Linked DNA regions of Homo sapiens. The protein of the gene in region 2 interacts with the protein of the main gene of each other region in a pairwise test. Each region holds a gene or a part of one and is shown on either strand. Other genes may lie near its edges. The genes, in order: PRDM6 and GRXCR1.

Region 1 (3,826 bases), on a different chromosome or scaffold from region 2:
AAGCAAAGGCAAACAGTATGCCTCACAAAAGGACAGTATCTCACAACCACAAGTAACTTATGGTTTTTTTTTTGTTTTTTTTTTTTTACCATTTGAGATCTTTAGTAGTGTTGTCTAATGACGGAGCTGTTCTGTATCTGAGCTAGCCAATACTGGAGCCACAAGCCACATGCAACTGCTGCACACTTCATGTGTGGCTAGTGCGCCTGAGAAACTGAAGTACTATTTTACTTAATTTGGATTAATTTAAATGTAAATAGCTTTGTGTGGCTAGTTCTGACACAGAAATACCCAGCTTGATGAAAAAACAGAAAGGTGCTCCTTAAGAAAGAAAGAACTGAAGAACAGAAAACACCTGGGTAGATTTAGTTGGTATATATCAATGCTGGTAAATGTTTAAGCAGAAAGAAGGCAGAGAGACAATCTTGCACATCTCCTGGCACTCCTGGTCACTGGCACCTCCTTTGCCAAAGATAACTCCAGTAAAATGTGCAATTCATTTGCTTTTAATCTGTAATTGGTTTGGTGTATACATGGGAAAAGGATGAAACATTTAACAAAATTAAGTATGGTTTGGCTTAAAAATATTAATCCTGCTTTAATTTTTTCTTCCATGGCCTCCAGGACAAAACTTGTTCAGTTGGGGCCACAATCTCTCCTTGTTCAACATCAGCCAGCCCAAGTGCAAATCTCTCAAGACTTCAAAGAGAGATTACTTAGGTCACTGCTGGCTGGGTGGAGTGAGAAAAGAACTCAGTTCTACGTAAGGAGAAAAATATTTCAGGACAGTGACAGAAGTGCAAGACTAAACAGCCTGAAGAACATCAAAGCTAGAAAGAAGATAACCTTCACACTTGGGGGATGGGGAAGAAGTGGGACACAAGAATACTGATACATTCTAAGAAACTATTATGATGATGAATTCTCTCCAGGCCCTCCTATCAGAGAGCCCCTTCTAATGTCATTTTACCCTCTGATCCCACCACATCTCTTACAAACAATGATACTTAAAACACAAATGTGAATAGGTGATGGTGTGCCCAGGAGGCTGAAGGCAGACTTGCCCCATGTGGCACAAACAGTCAAAAAGGAGAAAGGAAAAGAAAAGGGATGCAAAATAAAAATAAGCATTATAAAGACACTTTCTGCAGGAAATAAAAGAGAACATACTTGTCAGAAAACAATCCATTGTGATTGAAGGCTTTGCTTACCCCTTTCTGGAGCATACCCCCCACCACCATACTGCCCCCAATGGGAGTGCTGAGCAAAAGCACTTTTGGTTTGAGCAAAAGCAAGAAAAGCTACTTTGGCCTAGGCAATAAGCTTATGCAAAACCCCAAATGTTTATAAAGTTCCTGAACAAAATGTTGGTTGATTTAGATTCCAACAGCTGCTTCTCTTCGAATTTATTCAGGAAAAGAAAAAGTCAGTAGCCTGGGAAAAAGGAGGAAGAGATTTTTGATTTTGCTTAACAGAACAAAATCAAGTAATAATAATTCCATGGTTCCTGGACCCTCATGGGTGTGTTTTTTGTCTTTAGTGCTGATTTCTACTTTGCCAGGTCAGACAGATTTTTTTTTTCTGTGTTAAATGTGAATAACACAGTGGTTAAAAAAAATAAATAAAACAAAATAAATGGTGAGGCTGGGATCCCTGAGGATCTACGGATTTCTTTCCTTTATATCAAGGCATAGACTTTTGATGGTATCTCACATGAAAAAGCTCATGAATACAGACACAAAGTCTCTTGGATGGAGGTTGAAATATCTGGGGTTTCATGGCCAAATATTCAGTCCATTGAATAAAAAATCATTTGGACCTCAGATTCAAGGGCCTGTTTCAAATTTGGACTTGTTTGAAACTCTAACCTGTTTTACCTTCTGACTTTCTCTCCTGTGTCCCCCTTTCTTGCCTTTCTTGTACCTGGTTCTAGCAAGATTTTCCTATCAAAATAAAAGCTTTTGAGTTTTCTGAGCAAGGGAAATGCATTCTAACTATCCAGCCTTTTCACTGTAAGTGGCTGAATGGGCATATATTGCTAAAGACTAAAGGCCAGCTGATCTTTGGAATCAATCACTAAAGAATATACGTATACAGGTTGAGCATCCCAAATATGAAAATCCAAAATGCTCCAAAATCCAAAATGTTATGAACAGCAACATGATGCTCAAAGGAAATGCTCAATGATGCATTTCAGATTTCAGATTTTCAGATTTGGCATGCTAATCCAGTGAGTATAATGCAAACATCCCAAATCCAAAACAACCCAAAATCCAAAACTCTTCTGGTCCCAAGAATTTTGGACAAGGGATACTCAACCTGTATTCAGCAGTAATAATCCACGTGGATAATAACCATAAAAAGGTTCCAAACGTAGCTACTGTCATGAACAAATTTGATGTCCCATTACAGTTCTGTACATTTTTTCCGTTTAGCAATTCACCCATGTGGTTAAGAAATTACGGAGAGTATCTCTTATCTCCAAACTTTCTGGTACAAACAGAGCATACTGGGTTCCGGAACAGAAATGAGCCATTCCAGCCCTTTATACTAAAAGCAAATTATGTAACTAGAATGAAATTAGGGGGTCCAAGTGACTGGATATCTCCCTCTATTTCCCCTTATCTTCAACAATCAACTCAGATGTGATGATGTAAGTCAAGCATTTCCTCATCATTACTAAGAAACATTGTATTTTATTACTTTGCTTATAAAGGAACTGATCTTTTGAAGTAATTTTTTATTTTAACTTATTCAAGAATGATGGTGAACACCTCTCAAGTCTTTACCAACAAACTGCAGGGAAGGAACCCACTGCTTCAGTAATTTAATCCCACTCTGGCACCTTCCCAGATAACAAGCCCATTACTTCACCTCATCTGGAAAGGCTGGCAATTCCACACTTGGACATCTGAATCAAATAAGCCCATCAGGGTCCATGATAAGACAGGAGTCTCATGCCGCCTAGATTTTTGCCAGTAACTCTAAATTAGCTTGGAATCAGTATAGACCTAACAATCTCCCACTGAAATGTATTTTGAATACGTAAGCTTTCTAGTTTTTCAGGTATTTTTTCTGATAATATACATAAGTATATTACGAATTATGACATTATTATTTTACAGGACAGACATCATAACACATACATATAATTTTTTTTTTTTTTTGAGATGGAGTCTCACTCTGTCGCCCAGGCTGGAGTGCAGTGGTGCGATCTCGGCTCACTGCAAGCTCTGCCTCCTGAGTTCACACCATTCTCCTGCCTCAGCGTCCCAAGTAGCTGGGACTACAGGTGCCCGCCACCATGCCTGGCTAATTTTTTGTGTTTTTAGTAGAGACAGGGTTTCACCGTGTTAGCCAGGATGGTCTGGATCTCCTGACCTCGTGATCCGCCTGCCTCGGCCTCCCAAAGTGCTGGGTTTACAGGCGTGAGCCACTGCGCCCGGCCCCACACATATGATTTTCTAAGCGTAACTGAGATCAGACAAAACAGTCTGTTTCAGTATCTACCTACCATGAAATAGTTTCATTGCTTTATATGGCATTCAGCATAAACTCATCTCATCTTCAAAGCTAAACTTTTAAAGTTCTACTATCCAGAAATTTTTCAACTATTATTTTATTTTACCTGGTATAATTAGTTATTATGACTATAATGAACCTTTGCAAATAATAGATCCAACCATCTGAATTCACTCTATTTAAAAAGCAAGTTTATAATCAGATTTTAATGCATCTTTTGTATTTTAAAGACTACTAAAATGCTTTGCAAACTTAAAAGAGACATATCTTGAGGTTCTACGTATACTTGCAAGGAAGGCAAATT
Region 2 (3,826 bases):
GCAATTTGGTCACTTTGTTGATGGATTTTTGTCATTTCTTTGTGCAAGAATTGACTTAAAAAAAGGATGCACTGCACTTAAATTTTGTGTAATATTAAAATAGAAAAAAGAAAAACTTTGAGTAAAAACAAACCCAATGATGGAAAAATAGTGTACTTTAAAAGCTAAATATGAGAAAATTCCTAAGTAGTGGAGTTCTTATCAAATACTAGAAAGAATATAATGTAGATAGATCCTTGTCATTCACTATTGCTATGACATTAAATATGCTAAAAATATTTAATGACTTGTACAACAAGTGCATCAAGTCAGAATAAATGCTGGGCTGGCCAAGGTCCTACAGTAAGGACCTGCAGGGACCCTGAGTCCAGCCCTTTACTCATTACTGCTAGATTGTAAATAGATCTGAGTTCCTAGTAAAGTAGAGTTGTCAGATTTTGCAAATAAAAATACAGGACGCTCAGTTAAATTTGAATTTCAGATAGACCACAAATAATTTTTGTTTAAGTATGTACTAAATATTGTATGAGACATACTTAAGCTAGAAAATTATTTATAATTTATCTGATATTTAAATGTAAGTGGGCATCCTGCATTGTATCTGGCAAAATTTATAGGTTAGAGTTGACATAGAAGAAAAGAGATATTAATCCATCTTGGGCAATGGCTATTTACCAACCGTATAAATTATTTCAACATCTCTTTTTTTTTTTTTGAGACGGAGTCTCACTCTGTTACCCAGGCTGGAGTGCAGTGGTGCGACCTCAGCAGCTCACTGCAACCTCCTCCTCCCAGGTTCAAGTGATTCTCCTGCCTCAGCCTCCCAAGAAGCTGGGATTACAGGTGCATGTCACCACGCCTGGCTAATTTTTGTATTTTTAGTAGAGATGGGGTTTCACCATGTTGGTCAGGCTGGTCACAAACTCCTAACTCAAGTGATCCACCCACCTCGGCCTCCCAAAGTGCTGGGATTACAGGCATAAGCCACCATACCTGGACCAATTATTTCAATATCTTAATGAGTACAAACATATTTCAATATTTTCAATAACCACAACTGCTGTACCAGTGCACACTAGGTGAATATCAACTCCTGCTATGACCCAAGACACTTGTGAATGACCATATTCTTGAATAGCCATATGGTTTTCTCATGAAATATATTTGTGACTACAAGCAAAGAACAACAAAGCTGGAATGAAATGTTAGTGCTATGCAGCTTTCTGAGCTCCTTGTCTATGTGTGGCACTTCAGACACCAGGCTCTGAGCACACAAAATTCAAAATAGTAACTCAACACAATTAAAAATTATTTTACATAATGGGCCTACAACATCACTTACAAATATTACTTTCAAAGGCTAAAATATCAAATGTTAAATTCACTAATACCAAGAGTCTACTGTTTCTTCATAATTTATCCCCTTGTCAGAACAAATTTCCTAAAATAAACTTAATATATAAATACCAAAGCTACATTTTTATTTCTAAAAATAATCACAAATACAACAAGGCCATTCTAAAATAGGATCCTCAGAGTCTGCAATTCTGTGATTAGATCTCTCTTTCATTCAAAGGATTGTTGAGAGGATTCAATGAACTAATTCATGGGAGGTGAACAGCACATTGCCTGACACATAGTAGGCACTCAATACAGTTAGTTATTATTAGCCATTATTTTATTAATAAATTCCTATTGAAATGATTTTTATTAACTGCTACCTTAAGCTAAACTGCTTGTGGTCACATGACACAACCATTTTCTACACTTCTAAGAGTCATTCAATTTAAACACTTGTTCCATACTTCGCCTTCTGGTTTAAGGTTTTGCCACTGTAAGAAAGGGAGAGTAAATGTGTTTCAATTCATGTGCTATTTCTGTTGTCTTGGAGAATAGTGCTGGAAAGATTCTCGGGCTACTTCCATTCTCAGGAAAAATTAGCTATTTCAGCCATAAACGTAAGAGAGGAAAGGGATGGCTTATATCTTGTGTGGAGGAGTCTTTGCCCCCTTCTCACACCAACCTGATGTGATAGACACCACCGTTTTACAAATGAGGAAACACAGCCTCTAAGCTGGTTTTTAAAAAGTAATTATCAAGTTATAACTAGAAAGTGGAATATTGAAGAGGTCTCTTTATGAGCAAAATCTATGGTCTTCCCTCTATGATAGTAGTTTTCAATGTTTATTTGCATCCGTTTTTTCCCAAATTATCTAAACATGAGATCCCCAAATGTAAAGCAGTTGAAAGGATAAACGCTATGACTAAAGCCAAAGTGGTGGTGAGGTGGGTGGGTCTTCAGGCAACCCACTAAAGCTCCCCAGTGACCCCTCAGCACCCAGGAATCTCATTCTTGCTTGAGGCAACCCACTAAAGCTCCCCAGTGCCCCCTCAGCACCCAGGAATCTCATTCTTGCTACATCTTCCAGCACAATTTATGCTATTTATTATTCTAATAAGAATAAATAATTTAGTCATGCCTAGCCATGTCTTTCAAAGAGCAATTTGTTATACTGGAAGTCTGGTCCTAATTTAGAGGGTTCTGTACAAAGAAAACCCAGTTGGGTTATATTGGATGCTCTTATATTAGTGTTGCTCTGAAGTCTAACCCTTCTGTAGACAGTTTTGCCCACAGATCAAGATAGAAAAAGAGCTAGGAATTTCCCAAAGAACACGGACAAAGTTTGGAGTTGGAGGAATAACTGAATAACTGAAGTTGATGAAACAGACTTCTACTTTACTAATAATATTACTAATTATTAGTAACATTACAACTAGTAACAAAACAGGCTTCATTACTATTAGTAACTATTAGTAAAAATACTGACTTCCACTTTTTTTTTTTTTTTTTGAGACGGAGTTTCGCTCTGTTTCCCAGGCTGGAGTGCAGTGGCACGATCTCAGCTCACTGCAAGCTCTGCCTCCCTGGTTCACGCCATTCTCCTGCCTCAGCCTCCCGAGTAGCTGGGACTACAGGCGCCCACCACCCTGCCCGGCTAATTTTTTGTATTTTTAGTAGAGACGGGGTTTCACCGTGTTAGCCAGGATGGTCTCGATCTCTTGCCCTGGTGATCCGCCCGCCTTGGCCTCCCAAAGTGCTGGGATTACAGGCGTGAGCCACCGCGCCCGGCCCTGACTTCCACTTTCAATGAAGAGATTGACTGCTGCGGAAACGTTGACCTGCAAGCAATTAAGAATCCAGGCAGACCTGGTTGAGAATAGCACACAGAGTACTGAATCTACAGACTGTGTCTCCTCTCCTCTGAATAGTGGTTTGGGTTGAGACAAGTCACTTTGGAGTGGAGCTCAAGAGAAAAAGAATGAGAAATCACCCTCCACTTTACCTCTTTCTGTTCATTTATTCCTGTGAGTGAGTTTTAAAAGATAGATACTCAGTGAGTGAGACCTTTTACTTATTCATTCCATTCCACAAATATATATTGAGTATTCACTAGCCAGGCACTGTGTAAGGCAATGGGAATATAGCAGTAAACCAGACACTTCTCTGCTTTCCTAGTAGTACATCTCAGCCTCACCCCTGAGTCTTGGATAGGTCTGCTCCATATTGCAGTCATCTCAACTAAAGCACACGAAATGTATTGTGTCTCTAACAAAGGACAAAAACGACAAACGACAAAGATAATGGCAGAGTTTATGAATGATTGTGAAATAGACTTCCTTTGTAGCAAAGGAAATTTGAGTTTCAAATTTCAAGATGTAAGTTTACCCCCAGTTATGCAATATAGAAACAGGATGCTAAGATCAAGAGTCTTCATGTCTTCTTTGAGATCAGGAAATGAAGCTCTTATTATTTTTAACCTCAGAT

What was found.
Region 1: the proteins of GRXCR1 (region 2) and PRDM6 interact in binary tests that used the Homo sapiens proteins (3 or more experiments, as listed by UniProt).

What each region holds. Positions count from the first base shown.
Region 1 is NC_000005.10:123,172,532-123,176,357, reverse strand, and holds part of PRDM6 (putative histone-lysine N-methyltransferase PRDM6), read right to left. Parts: intron 1-3,826. UniProt on the Homo sapiens protein: Putative histone methyltransferase that acts as a transcriptional repressor of smooth muscle gene expression.
Region 2 is NC_000004.12:43,025,001-43,028,826, reverse strand, and holds part of GRXCR1 (glutaredoxin domain-containing cysteine-rich protein 1), read right to left. Parts: intron 1-3,826. UniProt on the Homo sapiens protein: May play a role in actin filament architecture in developing stereocilia of sensory cells.